Regions from separate parts of the Homo sapiens genome. Here all the other regions are linked to region 1. Evidence: fine-mapped expression QTL. A gene starts in region 1. Each other region holds a variant in brackets. All regions are shown on one strand. Distances are from middle to middle.

Evidence for each region. PIP is the estimated chance that this variant, and not a neighbour inherited with it, causes the effect. A credible set is the group of variants that fine-mapping cannot tell apart.
Region 2: its variant is the best candidate, but not a certain one, in a credible set for the expression of ADGRE2 in whole blood (INTERVAL, PIP 0.68).
Region 3: its variant is the best candidate, but not a certain one, in a credible set for the expression of ADGRE2 in whole blood (TOPMed, PIP 0.75).

Annotation. Positions count from the first base shown.
Region 1 is chr19:14,776,036-14,781,643 of GRCh38, forward strand. It overlaps ADGRE2 (adhesion G protein-coupled receptor E2), which reads right to left and starts at 2,525. Exons shown (of 21, transcript NM_013447.4): 1 at 2,222-2,525; 2 at 691-892. The coding sequence starts at 721. RefSeq lists an enhancer at 2-61.
Region 2 is chr19:14,802,893-14,808,531 of GRCh38, forward strand. The region is part of intron 2 of OR7C1 (olfactory receptor family 7 subfamily C member 1); the gene reads right to left. Among named protein-coding and RNA genes, the nearest start is that of ADGRE2, 27 kb to the left of the region's middle. The variant ATTT/A (reference allele first, on the strand shown) is at 2,514.
Region 3 is chr19:14,754,469-14,759,468 of GRCh38, forward strand. It overlaps ADGRE2 (adhesion G protein-coupled receptor E2), which reads right to left. Exons shown (of 21, transcript NM_013447.4): 12 at 1,770-1,877; 13 at 1,186-1,409; 14 at 486-659. Among named protein-coding and RNA genes, the nearest start is that of ADGRE2, 22 kb to the right of the region's middle. RefSeq lists enhancers at 4,245-4,768, 4,769-5,000. The variant T/C (reference allele first, on the strand shown) is at 2,725.

The DNA.
Region 1 (5,608 bases):
CTGTGGCCGCCTGTTGGGGTGCATGTGGCGCTGCGGTTCCCAGCACTCAGGAAGTTCCCCTTTCCAAGGCATGTCCTGGGGGACCCTCCTCAGGTCACCAGGGGCTTTAGAGATGGGGACCTAGGGATCTCCTTGTTGTTCACCAGAGAGAGAGACAAAGAGGCAGAGGTAGAGAGAAAACGGAGATTAGGGAGATAGAGAGACTGAAAGAGAGACAGAAGGAGAAAGACAGAGAGAGAGAGAGAAAGAAGGGAGAAGCTGGGGGTACCCTGCAGTGGAGAAGTCCTGGCCTCTATTTTCCCCGCCCCCCGCCCATGTCTTTCTATGCGCTATATTAAGAGCAGTGGCTCTGGGGTCCTAGCACTCACTTTTTGCCCCTTTCCTTCCCCCGTGCCTCAGTTTCCCCTCTTATGGAGCAGATGCCAAACTGGCTCCAGTAGAAAGCTTGAGGATCCCTCCGGGCAGGGTAGCAGGCTCCGAGAGCACCCTGGAGTTCCTGCCGGGGTGTGGGGGTGCCCAAGCACCACCAGCCCCTCTCGCCGTGTGCCCGTGAGTGCCTGCTTGACCATGTGGCTTTCTCCATCGCCGGCCCCACAGACACCAGCGGCGCCTCCCGTTTCTCAGACGCATCCAAGGGGTCCCGCTGGAGCTTCCTCGCTACCACCCCCAGCGGGGCCCCAAAGTACTTACCGAGAAAGACGAGAAAGACGCGGCCTCCCATGGTTCCAGCTGAGCTGCCGGCAGGAGCAGCAGGGGAAAGAGTGAGTGGGACAGGGCTGTCCCGTCTCCGCAGGCTGGGCAGCTGTGCGGGCTGTCCCGAGGCCAGGACTTTATAAAGGAGGGGGGGCGGACAGCCGCTGGCCCAGGGCCCTCCCCGGAACTGGCGGTGCAGCTGGAAGCCAGCAGGAAAGCACAATAAAAACACAGAACCAGGGGCGCTGCACACACACACACACACACACACACACACACACACACACGTGTACTCGCTCAGCAAGAATGAAGTGCAACCTGCTTTAAAAATCCCTCTGCTGGAGTTTCCACCATGTGGCTCTGACCAACCCTCTGGCCTCTGTGTGTTCCAGGCTGGCTGCTGTGCAGGGGAAGGTGTGGCAGCCGGGCGGGGCGGTCTCGCCTGGGGCCACTTGGCTCTTCCCTGGGCAGGCACGCAGGGGCCTTGTCAGAAATAGCTCTGGGCTCCCACTTTGGTAGGGCTCACCCTGTGCCCAGAGCTTTGGCATGCCAGAGTTGGCAGAGCCTGCGTCCCAGCTGGCAGTATCTTCCCCTGCTGTTTTCCAGATGAGGAAACTGAGGCCAGGTACAGAGGCTCACGCCTGTGATCCCAGCACTCTGGGAGGGCGAGGCAGGAGGATCGCTTGAGCTCAGGAGTTTGAGACCAGCCTGGGCAACATGGCGAAGCTCGGTTTCTTTCTTTCTTTTTAAATTAATTAATTAATTAATTAATTAAATTTTTTAGACTTTAAGTTCTAGGGTACATGTGCACAACGAGCAGGTTTGATACATAGGCATACATGTGCCATGTTGGCTTGCTGCACCTATCAACTCGTCATTTACATTAGGTATTTCTCCTAATGCAATCCCTCCCCCAGGCCCCCACCCCCCGACAGGCCCCAGTGTGTGATGTTTCCCGCCCTGTGTCCAGGTGTTCTCATTGCTCAGTTCCCACCTATGAGTGAGAACATGTGGTGTTTGGTTTTCTGTTTCTGTGTTAGTTTGCTGAGAATGATGGTTTTCAGCTTCATCTGTGTCCCTGCAAAGGACATGAACTCATCCTTTTTTATAGCTGCATAGTATTCCCTGGTGTATATGTGCCACACTTTCTTAATCCAGTCTATCATTGATGGACATTTGGGTTGATTCCAGGTCTTTGCTATTGTGAATAGTACCGCAATAAACATACATGTGCATATGTCTTTATAGTAGCATGATTTATAATCCTTTGGGTATATACCCAGCAATGGGATCGCTGAGTCAAATGGTATTTCTAGTTCTGGATCCTTGAGAAATCACCACACTATCTTCCACAATGGTTGAACTAATTTACATTCCCACCAACAGTGTAAAAGCGTTCCTATTTCTCCACACCTGTGATCCCAGCACTCTGGGAGGCCGAGGCAGGAGGATCGCTTGAGCTCAGGAGTTTGAGACCAGCCTGGGCAACATGGCAAAGCTCTGTTTCTTCAAAAAGAAAAAAAATTACCTGGGCTTGGTGGCAGACGTCTGTGGTCCCAGCTGCTACTACTCAGGAGGCTGAGGCAGGAAGAATCACCCGAGCTGGGGAGTTTGAGGCTGCGGTGAGCTAAGATGGTGCCACTGCACTCCAGCTTGGGTGATAGAGTGAGACCCTGTGTCAAAAACAAAAAGAAAGAAAGAAAACTGAGGCATTACAGTGTCCACATAAAAGCCCAGGGAGGGAGAAGGGGCCCTCTTCCGATGCCAGGCAGGTGCCAAGAAGAGAAGCTTCACCGCACAGAGCAGACCCCCCGGATCTTTCTGGTCTTTCTAAGCCAGTTTCCTCCTGTGGGAAACTTATATTTCAGAGGCCCCTGGGCACTTCGTTAATCAACAGAGAATCATGTGATAGGAGGGTTCTTTCCTTTCTGGATAAATCATATGATTAGCTTGTCTCTTGAGGTACGTAATCATTTTTTAAAACGCTATATATATTTTTAAGAGATCTTACTCTGTCACCCAGGCTGGAGTGCAGGGTCACCATCACAGCTCACTGCAGCCTCAAACTTCAGGGCTCAAGGGATCCTCCTGCCTCAGCCTCCTGAGGAGCTGGGACTACAGCTGTGCACCATCACGTCTGGCTAGTTTTCTCCTTAAGTGTTTTTTTTTTTTGTAGAGACGAGATCTCGCTATCCTGCCAAGAAAATGCTATTATTTATGGAGCACTTAATTTGTACCAGGTCTGGTCCTAAGTGCTTTTTTTTTTTAATCTATATTAACTCATTTACTCCTTAAAACATCTGCAATGATGTTGTCATTCCCATTTGACAGAGGAGGAAACTGAGGCACAAGTGACTCACCCAGCTGAGACTCAGATCCACAGGCCGGCAGCCCAGCCCTGGAGTCCCTGCGATGAGCCCAGGGGAAAGTCTCCACTGGGCACTAACATGTCTTTAGCGCCTCCGTGACCCTGAGGCTTAGCAGGTGTCTGTATCCAGCCAGAATTCAAGGACTTGGTTTTGTGTTCCTCATATTTATATTTATTTTTAGGTTTCCCTACTATCTGGGGCAATGAGGAGGGTTTTTCAGTGAGGATGCCGAAATCAAGTCTCCTTGTTACATGAGTAAATTCAAGATGCAGAAGTGATGAATGCTAAGGAAAATATAGTTCAGTTGTTCAAAGGGGGAGATTGCAGCGATGGAGAAAAAAGTCACTAATGACTGAAGTCAGAGAACTATTGTCCTGGGAATAATCAAACATCCACAGTCCTAGAATTTACCCCTTCCTGTCCCGGGCTCCTGTGGGGGTGGCCTGGGCTGTGGGGGAGGGGAGTGAACACCAGCAGAAGCTGGAAGGAGAGAGGGCCAGACCAGGTCTGGAGGGATTTTGCCTTTTTTTTCTCAGAAAGCCAGAAACTCCAGCTAGAACCCCAGGGCTCAACGTCCCTTCTCTGCAGATCAGACGGGCAGGTCAGACAGCTGGCGTCTGCAGAATCTCAGGGAGGTAGTGGCACTTCCTGATGCCAGGGATTGTCCCTACACCCCTTCATGGTGATCATCGACTCTTCTTAATTTAATTTTATTTTACTGTATTTTAGAGACAGACTCTGGTGTTGCCCAGGTTGGAGTACAGTGGCGCCATCTCGACTCACTGCAACCTCCGCCTCCCGGGTTCAAGCGATTCTCCTGCCTCAGCCTCCAGAGTAGCTCGGACTACAGGTGCCCACCACCACACCTGGCTAATTTTTGTATTTTTATTTTATTTTATTTATTTGTTCATTCATTTATTTATTTTGAGACAGAGTCTCGCTCTGTCACCCAGGCTGGAGTGTGGTGATGTGATCTCAGCTCACAGCAACCTCTGCCTCCTGGGTTCAAGAGATTCTCCTGCCTCAGCCTCCCAAGTATCTGGAATTACAGGTGCAAGCCACCACGCCTGGCTAATTTTTGTATTTCTAGCAGAGATGGAGTTTCGCTATGTTGGTCAGGCTGGTCTCGAACTTCTGGCCTCAAGTGATCTGCCTGCCTTGGCATCCCAAAAGTGCTGGGATTACAGGCGTGAACCACAATGCCCGGCCTGAAACATTCTTTTTAAATTTTTATTTTATTATTATTATTATTATTTATTATTACTTTTTTCTGAGACGAAGTCTTGCTCTGTCACCCAAGCCGGAGTGCAGTGGTGCTATCTCGTCTCACTGCAATCTCTGCCTCCCGGGTTCAAGCAATTCTCCTGCCTCAGCCTCCCGAGTAGCTGGGATTATAGGCACCTGCCATCGCATCTAGATAATTTTTGTATTTTTAGTGGAGACAGGGTTTCACCATGTTGGCCAGGCTGGTCTCGAACTCCTGTCCTCAAATGATCCACGCGCCTCAGCCTCCCAAAGCGTTGGGATTACAGGCGTGAGTCACCATTCCTGGCGGCTTTCTTGAGTCTCTCCAATACTTCTCACCATCTCCCTTCTTCCCTAGCAACCATCTGCCCTCGAGCCGCATTAGGCTGTCAGCCCCCTGAGTGACTTTTGTCTTTTTCTCTGCAGAGCACCAGCACAGAGCCTGTGCTGAGTGGGGCCCTATATGGTAAACCATGCAAATTAGTAGTACTCCTGCCACTCCACTCCGCTGCCGCCCAGCTAAAGGAAGCCTCCTTCAGCCTCGCTGATCTGGTCCCTGCCGGGGTGTCTGCCTATGTTTCTCCGCCTTCTCTTTGTCCAGAAGTCTCAGTCCTGCTGACCTATTTTGCAGCTTCTGGACAACCTCTGCAATGATGGGGGGTGCGAACATGGTCCTCATTTGTCAAAAGGGGAACTGGAACCTGGGGGTTTGGGGCCCCTGGCCCCAGGTTGCTCAGCTAAGAAGTAACCCAAGATTACCTGTAATCCCAGCTGCTTGGGAGGCTGAAGCAGGAGAATTGCTTGAGCCCAGGAGATGTAGGTTGCAGTGAGCTGAGATCGCGTTATTGCACTCCAGCCTGGGCGATAGAGCCAGACTCCGTTTCAAAAAAAAAAAAAAAAAAAAAAGAAGCAACCCAAGATTATCCAACCAACAATAATAATGGTATTATTAATTATATTAGTATAATTTATTGTTATTATTTTAGAGACAGGGTCTCTGTTGCCCACGCTGGAGCACAGTGGCGGTGGCACAATTATGGCTTCAGGCAACCTGCACGTCCTGGGCTTATGTGATCCTCCTGCCTCAGCCTACCAAGTAGCTGGGACTACAGGCATATGTTGCCATGCCTGGCTAACTTTTCACTTTTTTTGTGTGTGTGTGAGGGGGACGGAATCTTGCCCTGTTACCCAGGCTAGAGTGCAGTGGCGAGATCTCGGCTCACTGCAACCTCCGCCTCCCAGCTTCAAGCAATTCTCCTGCCTCAGCCTCCCTAGAAGCTGGGATTACAGGCACACACCAC
Region 2 (5,639 bases), 27 kb after region 1:
TTAATAGGCAAAAGAAAGAGAAAGGAGAACGTGCCTGAGTGGGACTTCCTGCTGGCAGCAAAGTACACTGGATTTTATAGACTGGCTTGAGGAGGCAGTGTTTGATTTAAATAGGGCCCAAAGATTGGTTGGGGCCAGGCGTCGTGGCTCACGCCTGTAATCTCAGCACTTTGGGAGGCTGAGGCAGGTGGATCACCTGAGGTCAGGAGTTCAAGACCAGCCTGGCCAACATGGTGAAACCCCGTCTCTACTAAAAATACAAAAATTAGCTGGGTGTGGTGGTGCGCATCTGTAATCCCAGCTACTTGGGAGCCTGAGGCACAAGAGTCACTTGAAACTGGGAGATGGAGGTTGCAGTGAGCCGAGATCACACCACTGCACTCCAGCCTGGGTGATAGAGGGAGACTATGTCTCCAAAAAAAAAAAAAAAAAAAGAAAAGATTGGTTGGACCAGGTGTGACGTTTACATAGTCCGGAGGAAGCTGGCTGCTCCATCCTAATCTTCTATTATGCAGATGGGGTCTTTGCGGGTCGCTGCCATGTTGTCTTCTCCTTACTGTACACGTGGTTTGCAAGGAAAAGGGAAGATGGAGTCACCATGTTGAACATGCCTGGCTCCCAGACAGCCTTTTCCTATTTGTCACAGCTGCCAGCATTCACCCGTGCAGGGTTCCAGCTTGATTATCTATATCTGCAGCTTGATTTTACAGGCTGCTTTTTGTTAGAAAAGAAATTATTTGGGGGCTGCTTTTTATTAAAAGGGAAACCTTACCAAGGACTTCCTTACCCTCCCTATCTACCTAAATAATAATAATAATAATAATTTTTTTTTTTTGAGACGGAGTGTCGCTGTGTCGCCCAGGCTGGAGTGCAGTGGCGCGATCTCGGCTCACTTCAACCTCTGCCTCCTGGGTTCAAGTGATTCTCCTGCCTCAGCCTCCTGAGTAGCTGGGACTACAGGCGCGTGCCACAAAGCCCAGCTAATTTTTTGTATTTTTAGTAGAGACGGGGTTTCACCGTGTTAGCCATGATGGTCTTGATCTCCTGATCTCGTGATCCACCTGCCTCGGCCTCCGAAAGTGCTGGGATTACAGGCGTGAACCACCGTGCCTGGCCTAAATATTTCTTTTTAACTCCTATATCAGAAAGATTCCTGGGAATGTAGGATACATAGGTGTCCTACCCAGGATTGCATGCTAAGTAAACATCTAGAAGGCCCTGACCTCTCACCTGTAGCTGATATTCAAGCTCTGTGCAAGTAGGAAGTTAAGGCAAAGGCTGGAGTTGAAAAATGCTCAGCTGAGTGGTAAAGGCCTGTCTGAAAGCACATACAGAGCCAAACTGCAAAGGTTGGGAGATTTTGGTTTTGGGCTCCACTGTTTAAGGAAATCTCTTATCAAATCACTCTCTGGCCATTAAGCTAACAGCCTAGAGACTTCAGCAACCACACACTGGACAAATATGCAATCTTTATAAAATTAGAAGACTCATTAGGCAAGTAAACAACTGCAAATTACAAAAAGCAGCAACCATAAACCCCAAGGAGGAGAGAAAATTTGATTTCCAGAGTCGCCACACTATAATATTCAAAATATTTAGTTGTAATGAAATATTATGAGACATGCAATGAAACAAGAAAGTATAGCAAAGGAAAGAATAATTAATTAGTAGAACCTGACCCCAAGGAAGCCTTTACTGAGGCTCAATGCCTGGGCTTCTTCGTTTACATGCAATCTCATTTACATGAAATAGCCACAATACATAAACGAGTCGCAGGATAACGAGTCGCAGGGACTGGGGAGCGGGGGTAGGGGATGAGGATAAAGTGCTACTGTAATGTGTAAGTGGTTTTATTTAGGAGTAATGGAAATGTTTTGAAACTAGATAGAGATGGTGGTTGCGCAAAACACAGAATGTAGTGAATGGCACTCAATTGCTTGCTTTCAAGTAACTGGTTAATTTATGTTATATTAATTTCATCTCAATAATTTTTTTTTGAGACAAGGTCTTGTTTTGTTGCCCAGGCTGGAGTGCAGTGGTGCAATCATGACTCACTGTAGCCTTGACCTCCTGGGCTCAAGCAATCCTCACATGTCAGCCTCCAAAGTAGCTGAGACTACAAGAATGCACCGTCACACCCAGAAGCTAGTGGATCTAGATAGATAGGAAGTTTGATTGCCTATTGAATTCCTATTAAATTCCTCTGCTATGTATATGGCCTCAATGTTTGAATTCACAAGCACGGGGGTTAGAAGGAACATTTCTTGTTCAGCTTTGATCACTACGCTGCAGAATGCCCAAAGAAGGTCCCCAGTCTGTACTCCTCCTGCCTGCAAAAAAAAATCTGAGAGTTCTTGGGGCTAGAGCTTCCTCACACTCAAGGGGAATGAGATGCACATTGATTCAAGGCTCATTGAGACCCTGGTGCCTTCTGTAATCTAGGACCATCCCTGGAGCATCTTCATGTCTCCCATGATGGTCCACTGAGGCAGGACCCAAGAAACAGGAAAATA[ATTT/A]TTTTTTTTTTTTTTTTTTTTTTTTTAGACAGAATCTCACTCTGTCACCCAGGCTGGAGTGCAGTGGTATGATCACAGCTCACTGCAACCTCCGCCTACTGGGTTCAAGTGATTCTCCTGCCTCAGCCTCCTGAGTAGCTGGGATAAAAGGCATGTGCCACCACAGCCGGCCTTGTTTTGTATTTTTAGTAGAGACAGAGTTTTGCCATGTGCCCAGGCTGGTCTCGAACTCCTGACCTCAAGCGATCCACTTTTCTCGGCCTCCCAAAGTGCTGGGATTATAGGCGTGAGCCACCATGCCCGGCCTGGGAAATTATTTCTGTGTGACAAAAAATAATCTGAATGACCAGCTTCATTGGGTTTTCTTTTTCTACCTTCCACATGTGACCATCCATTAGGGATCTAGTAATAACATTTTTAAGTCACAAACTTTGAGAGGGACCAGCTATTTTTATTATCCCATTTATATAAGACTGCTATCTAAAAATTACAACAGTTCTGGGACATATACTGATATGAGTCAATCCAAAAATGTAATTTGGACATCAAAGTAAGACCAGATGGTGACTTGTTAATTGGAGACACCAAATTAATGTTAATAATACAGAAAATTGTCCTCTAACTATGATGGTATTATACAATAAGTCTGTACTATTTAGAGTCTAAATGTTCTTGTCACTCAATGAGATGTGCTTTAACTCAAGACAAGGTTTACTGCTATTTTTTTCAGGGCTCCTGAATACCTGGGCAATACCTAGTGTCCTTGGCTCCCCTCTACTGCTGTGTGGCTGTTACTGTGTGTGAGGTCTTTAGCCTACATTAAGGAACATTTCAAGAATCTAAAAATGTGTTTTTGGATTCCTTCAAGGGAATTGGCTGGAAACATTGCTCCTTCCATCACACAATGTGACTGCTTTAAGAGAAACAGTCATTAATGTATTTTATGCCTTCATGTCAGGAATGGCCATGTTGCTAAGTTTTATTTTAAGTTCCAGGATACATGTACAGGACATGCAGATTTGTTACACAGGTAAATGTGTGCCATGGTGGTTTGCTGCACCTGTCAACCCATCACCTAGGTATTCAGCCCTGCATGCATTAGCTATTTATCCTGATGCGCTCCCTCTGCCAACTCCCACTGACAGGCGTCAGTATGTGTTGTTCCCCTCCCTGTGTCCATGCATTCTCATTGTTCAGATCCCACTTATGAGTGAGAACATGAGGTGTTTGGTTTTCCATTCCTGTGTTAGTTTGCTGAGGATGATGGCTTCCAGCTTCATCCATGTCCCTGCAAAGGACATGGTCTTGTCCCTTTTTATGGCTGCGTAGTATTCTGTGGTGTATATGCACAAAATTTTGTTTATCCAGTCTATCATCGATGGGCATTTGGGTTGATTCCATGTCTTTGATATTGTGAATAGTGCTGCAATAAACATATGTGTGGATGTATATTTATAATAGGATGAATTATATTCCTTTAGGTATATACCCAGTAATGGGATTGCTGGGCCAAATGGTATTTCTGGTTCTAGATCCTTGAGGAATTGCCACATTGTCTTCCACAATGGTTGAACTAATATAGGTTACCACCAACAGTGTAAAAACATTCCTATTTCTCCACAGTCTTGCCAGCATCTGTTATTTCTTAACTTTTTAATAATTGCCATTCTGACTGGCATGAGATGGTATCTCATTGTGGTTTTGATTTGCATTTCTCTAATGATCAGTGATGTTGAGCTTTTTTTCATGTTTGTTGGCCGCATAAATGTCTCCTTTTGAGAAGTGTCTGTTCATGTAGGGATGGCCATGCTTCTATTAAGCACTTTTTTGTTTTAATGTTATGGATCCTGCTAATCTTGTAATTGATCATTGTGCCAGAGATTGCCTACCCAATATATCCATTCTTTTTTTGTTATTAATAGAACTCAATTATATTTGGAAGTGGTCATGTGTCCAGCTAAGATACTATATTTTCCACTCTCTATTGCAAAATCATGGAGAGTTGAAGCATAGGAATTTATTTGATGGGAATCCTGGAATCCTCTTTAGAATCCTTCCCCTCTGTTCATCTCTTTCTTGCCTGGGATTTGCACATGACACTGGAATTCCCTTAGCTGATATATCTTGGAAAACAACACATTAAAGATGGGGCAGCAGAGAGATAGAGTAAACCCTTGTGCCTCAGGTTAGCACAGAGTGATCATGGTGACCCATTCTTTTAGGGAGGAGACACATTAACTCCTGATTGAATTAAAACAGTGGTGGATCACGAGGTCAGGAGACTGAGACCATCCTGGCTAACACGGTGAAACCCTGTCTCTACTAAAAATACAAAAATTCAGCTGGGCATAGTGGTGGGTGCCTGTAGTCCCAGCTACTCAGGAGGCTGAGGAAGGAGAATGGCGTGAACCCAGGAGGCGGAGCTTGCAGTGAGCCGAGATTGTGCCACTGCACTCCAGCCTGGGTGATAGAGCGAGACTCAGTCTCAAAAAAAAAAACAAACAAACAGTCTTTAGAAGCAGTCAACAAACATGAAAAATTGCTCAAAAATTTCTCTACATCCTCACCAACATATTTTTTTATTTCTTTAATAATAAACCATTCTGACTGGTGTAATCATCAGATAAATGCAAATTAAAACCACGATGAGATACCATCTTACACCAGTCAGAATGGTTATTTTAAAGAAATAAAAAAAAAAAAAACAACAACAGATGTTGGTGAGGATGCAGAGAAAAGGGACTGCTTATGTGCTGTTGGTGGGAACGCAAATTAATTCAGTCTCTATGGAAAACAGTATGGAGATTTCCCAAAGAACTAAAAGTAGGACTACCATTCAATCCAGCAATCCCACTAGTGGGTATATACCCCAAAGAAAAGAAATCATTACACAAAAGACACCTGAACTAATACGTTTATCACAGCACTATTCACAATAGCCAAGTCATAGAATCAACTTAAGTGTCCACCAATGTATGATTGGATAAATAAAATGTGGTATATATACAGCCAACGGAATACTACTCAGCCATAAAAAGAATGAATTCATGTCTTGTGCAGCAACATGGATGGAACTGGAGGCCATTATCCTAAGTAAAATAACTTGGAAACAGAAAATCAAAT
Region 3 (5,000 bases), 22 kb before region 1:
ATCTATCTATCTATCTATCTATTCCATTAGTTCTGTCCCTCTAGAGAACCTCGACTAATACAAAGCTTAAGAGGGATTCTGCGTGAGGAAATTTTTTTCCTTGTCCTCCAGATAGGAATGCTAGAAGTTTGCCAGAGGGTCATGTGAGAAGGGATATGAGTGGCCTCTAGGAACTGAATGTGATGCCTTCCTGACAGCTAAGAAAGTGAGACTTCAGTCCTACAATCACAAGAAACTGAATTCTGCCAGCAACCAGGGAGCTTGGAGAAGGACCTCAAGTCTCAGATGAAATGGCAGCCCTGGGGGTGGGGTGACATGATGATTTCAGTCTTGTAAGACCCTGAGCAGAAAAGCCATCTTGCTATGCCAGCTTGCTGACCCAGAGCTGTGAGATAATGCATATATTTTTTTAAAAGGCTGCTACGTCTCTGGGGATTTGTTACACGGCAATAAATGCAGAGTGCATCCCCTCCTAAGGGTCTCACCTGCACATCGTAGTGGGCCATGAGGACGGCAAAGCTGCTCAGGTGGGTGCAACGGCAGATGGTGCTGGTGTCTCTGGTGCCTATTGTGCTGCAGCCTGTGGTGGCCCAGTGACCACATCCATTCTGGCCATGCTCCCAGAAGACACAGAGCACCTTCTGTCTCGGGATCACTGACTGCAGGAACAGAACACAGGTGTGGGCTGGGCATGGTGGCTCACGCCTGTAATCCCAGCACTTTGGGAGGCTGAAGCAGGTGGATCACTTGAGGTCAGGAGTTTGAGACCAGCCTGGCCAACATGGTGAAACCCCATCTCTACTAAAAAAAAAAAAAAAAAAAAAAAATACAAAAATTAGCTGGGCGTGGTAGCACACACCTGTAGTCCCAGCTATTAGGGAGGCTGAGGCAGGAGAATCGCTCGAACCTGGGAGGCGGAGACTGCAGTGAGCTGAGATCGTGCCACTGCACTCCAGCCTGGCTGACACAGCGAGACTCTGTCTCAATAAAAAAAAGAACACAGGTGTGAGCTGGTGGGTCGGATGCTCAGAAATGCTTACCCAAAGCCGGCTTGGGAAGGACTGACTTTCCTGGGGAGATAATGTACCCATAACAGAGACCCCTGAGCCCCAGGGCTGAGCTGAGCAGCAAGGCTATGCCCGGACTCAGACTATTCACCCACCAACCAACTCCACCAGCACTCACACGGTGGGAGAAGGTGAAGGTAACTGGGGAGCTGAGGTTTTGGGTGTCGTTGTTGCTCAGAAAGGCAGAGATCACATCTGAGAGCAGGATGGGGGAGCCGTCCTGCAGCAAGCCCTGGTGTGTCTCATGCAGAAGCATCTGCTTCTCAGGTTCCAGGACCAGAGGGGCCTCAGCCAGCAACTTGCCCATCCCTGGAATGGAGACAAGGCCCACCACAGAAGGGCCTGCAGGGCGAGGCCAAGGTTGAATCTTGGAGTAGGTTGAATCTCTGGGTCCACACCAGAGTTCCTCTGCCCTGCACAGAACTTTCTACTCAGATGGGCTACCTTCCTTTGGCTTCACCCCTCCCACACTTTCCTTCAATCTTTAGTTCTATGTGTATCACATCCTGCAGGACAAGGCCACGGTTAATATCTCAGGGTCCCCAACAAGGTCCGTTCCTCCTCAGCTGGACTCTCCTCTTACAGCCCCACTCCAAACATCCCACACTTCCCTTTAATCTTTAAATTTCTTATTTTTCACATTCTTGGGCATCTTTTCCCACCATGAAGCTTCACTGACCACCTCCCCATCTCAGCCATTACCTGGGTCACCAGATTTCTGTGCCTGATTCCAGTCGAGCTGCATCACTGCCTGATTCTGTCTCAAGGTGACACTCCTGTCTACTTGCTTCTGCACCTCCAGGGACAATTCTATGAGTTGTGGGAATTACATAAGGGGGGTTAGGTTAGGAATCGTGCCTGCAGTGGTTGATATACTATGACTTAATATATATACTATATACATATATAGTCTGAAGTTACAAAATATCGGAAGAGAATAGTGTGAGCAACTGTATATCTACAAAGTAGGTAACCTAGATGAAATGGACACATTCCTAGTGACACACAAACCACTGAAATCAACTCAAGAAGAAATAGAAGATCTGAACAGACCTATAACAGATTAAATCAGTAATCAAAACCTCTCAAAACTAACAGCCCAGACCAGATGACTTCACTGGTGAGTTCTACCAATAGCTTAAGAAAGAATGAACATGAATCTTTTACCTTTTTAAAAATATGGAAGAGGAGGAAACACTATTTAAGTAATTTTATGAGTCTAATATTGCTCTGATAACAAAACCAGATGAAGACATCACAAGAAAATAAAATTATAGACCAATATTTCTTATGGACATAGATGCAAAAATTTTCAGCAAAAATGTTAGGAATACATTTTACGAAGGAGACTCAAGACTTATAGGAAAGTTTTTTGAGTATTTTTTTTTTTTTGAGACAAATTCTCACCTGTTGGTCAGGCTAGAGTGCAGTGGCATGATCATAGCTCACTGCAGTCTCCTGGGCTCAACCAATCCTTCCACCTCAGCCTCCCAAGTAGCTGGCACTACAGGTGCTCACTACCACAGCCAGCTAATTTTTAAATTTTTTGTGGAGATCATGTTTCAGTATATTTCCAAGGCTGGGCTTGAACTCCTGGGCTCAAGCAATTCTCCCACCTTGGTGGCCTCTGACAATATTGGGCGTGAGCCACTGCTTC[T/C]GGCCTACAAAAGTGTTTGAAAGAAATAAAAGGCCCTCTCTAAATGGAAAGACAGCCTATGTTCATGGATTGGAAGACTTTCTATTGTTAAGATAACAATACTCCCCCAAAGTGGTCTAGAGACTCAATGCAATCCCTATCAATATTTTAGCCTATTATTACTTTGCAGAATAAGAAAAGTTCATCTTAAAATTCATATGGTGTTGTAAGGAATCCAAATACCCAAAAACAATCTTGAAGAAGAACAAGAAGGTTGGAGAATTCACACTACCTGATTCCAAAACTTACTACAAACTGACAGTAATACTGGCATAAGGACACAACAGAATAGAATTGAGAGTCCAGGAATAAACCCATCCATCTTATGGTCAGTTGATTCTCAACAAGGGGTGCCAAGACTATACAATGGGGGAAAGAATAATCTCTTCAACAAATAGTGCTGGGATTACTGGATAGTAACATGAAAATAAGGAAGTTTTAACCCTACCCTCACACAACAAACAAAAATTAACTCAAAATAAGCCAGTGACCTAAGCTTAGAAGCTAAAACTAGAACACTTAGGAGGAAACAGGGGTAAATCTTCCTGGTCTTGGATGCGGTAATGAATTCTTTTTTTATTTTTATTTTTGGGACAGAGTCTTGCTCTGTCATCCAGGCTGGAGTGTAGTGGCACAATCTCAGCTCACTGCAACCTCCGTGTCCCAGGTTCAAGCAATTCTCCTGCCTCAGCCTCCTGAGTAGCTAGGATTACAGTCATGTGCCAACACATCTGGTTAATTATTTTTATTTTTATTTTTAGTAAGGACAGGGTTTCGCCTTGTTGGCCAGGCTGGTCTCAAACTCCTGACCTCAGGTGATCCGCCCACATTGGCCTTCCAAAGTGCTGGGATTACAGGCGTGAGCCACCACCCCCTGTCAATGAATTCTTAAATATGACACCAATTGCACATGCAACAAAAGAAAAATTAGATAAAATAAATGTCTTCAAGATTTAAAACTTCTATTCATTAAAGTGAAAAGACAAGAAAATGAAAAGACAATCTACAGAACGGGAGAAAATATTTTGCAAATCATTCATCTCAGATGATCTACTATCAGAATGTTTAAAGAATGCTTACAACTGGACAACCAAAAGACAAACAGCACAATTAAAAATAGGCAAAGGATTTGAATAGACATTTCTCCAAAAATGACATGCAAATGGTGAGCAAACACATGAAAAGATGTTAAACATCATTAGTTATCAGGGAAGGGCAAATCAAAACCACAATGAGGTATCATCTCACTAGTGAAGTGGTGTAAATACCCAAGTTTCACTGTTTCACACCAGGGAAATTGAGGATGTGGACACATAAGAAGTTAGTTTAAGAGTGGAGATTTAATAGGCGAAAGAAAAAAAGAATAGCTCTGGCTGGGCGCAGTGGCTCACGCCTGTAATCCCAGCACTTTGGGAGGCTGAGGCGGGAGGATCACGAGGTCAGGAGATCGAGACCAACCTGGATAACACGGTGAAACCCCGTCTCTACTAAAAATACAAAAAAATTAGCTGGGCATGGTGGTGGGCGCCTGTAGTCCCAGCTACTCCGGAGGCTGAGGCAGGAGAATGGCGTGACCCCGGGAGGCGGAGCTTGCAGTGAGCCGAGATCGCGCCCCTGCACTGCAGTCTGCGGGACACAGCACGACTCCGTCTCAAAAAAAAAAAAAGGAAAAAGAGAATAACTCCCTCTCCTGCAGAGAGACAGGGGCTCCCAAGTGGGTCTTCCGGTTGCGTGGTGAAATGCACGAAGTTTTATAGATGAGCTTGGGTAGGCGGTGTCCGATTTACATAAGGCTTAAAGATTGGTCTGAACAGGTGAGCCATTTACATACAGCATGAAGAAACTGGCTGCCCCAGCCTAATCTTTTATTATGCAAATGGATTCTCTACCTGGCTGGCTCCACGTTGCCTGCTTCTGTACTGTACACGTGGTTGACAAAGATAAAGGAAGAGGGAGCCCCCACGTTGAACATGTCGGGCCCCCAGGTAACCTTTTCCTATTGGCACAGCTGCCGGCATTCACCCGTGCAAGCTTCCAGCTTGCTTTTCTATGTCTGCAGCTCGAATTTTCAGGCTGCTCGTTATTAGAAAAGAAATGATTTGGGGGCTGGTTTTTATTAAAAGGGAAACCTTACTGAGGACTCTCTGACCCTTGCTAACTGCCTAAATAATTTCTTTTTCACTCCTGTATCACTGGGATGAAGAGAGGTGAGTTAACAGGTAGAGACATACAGTTAG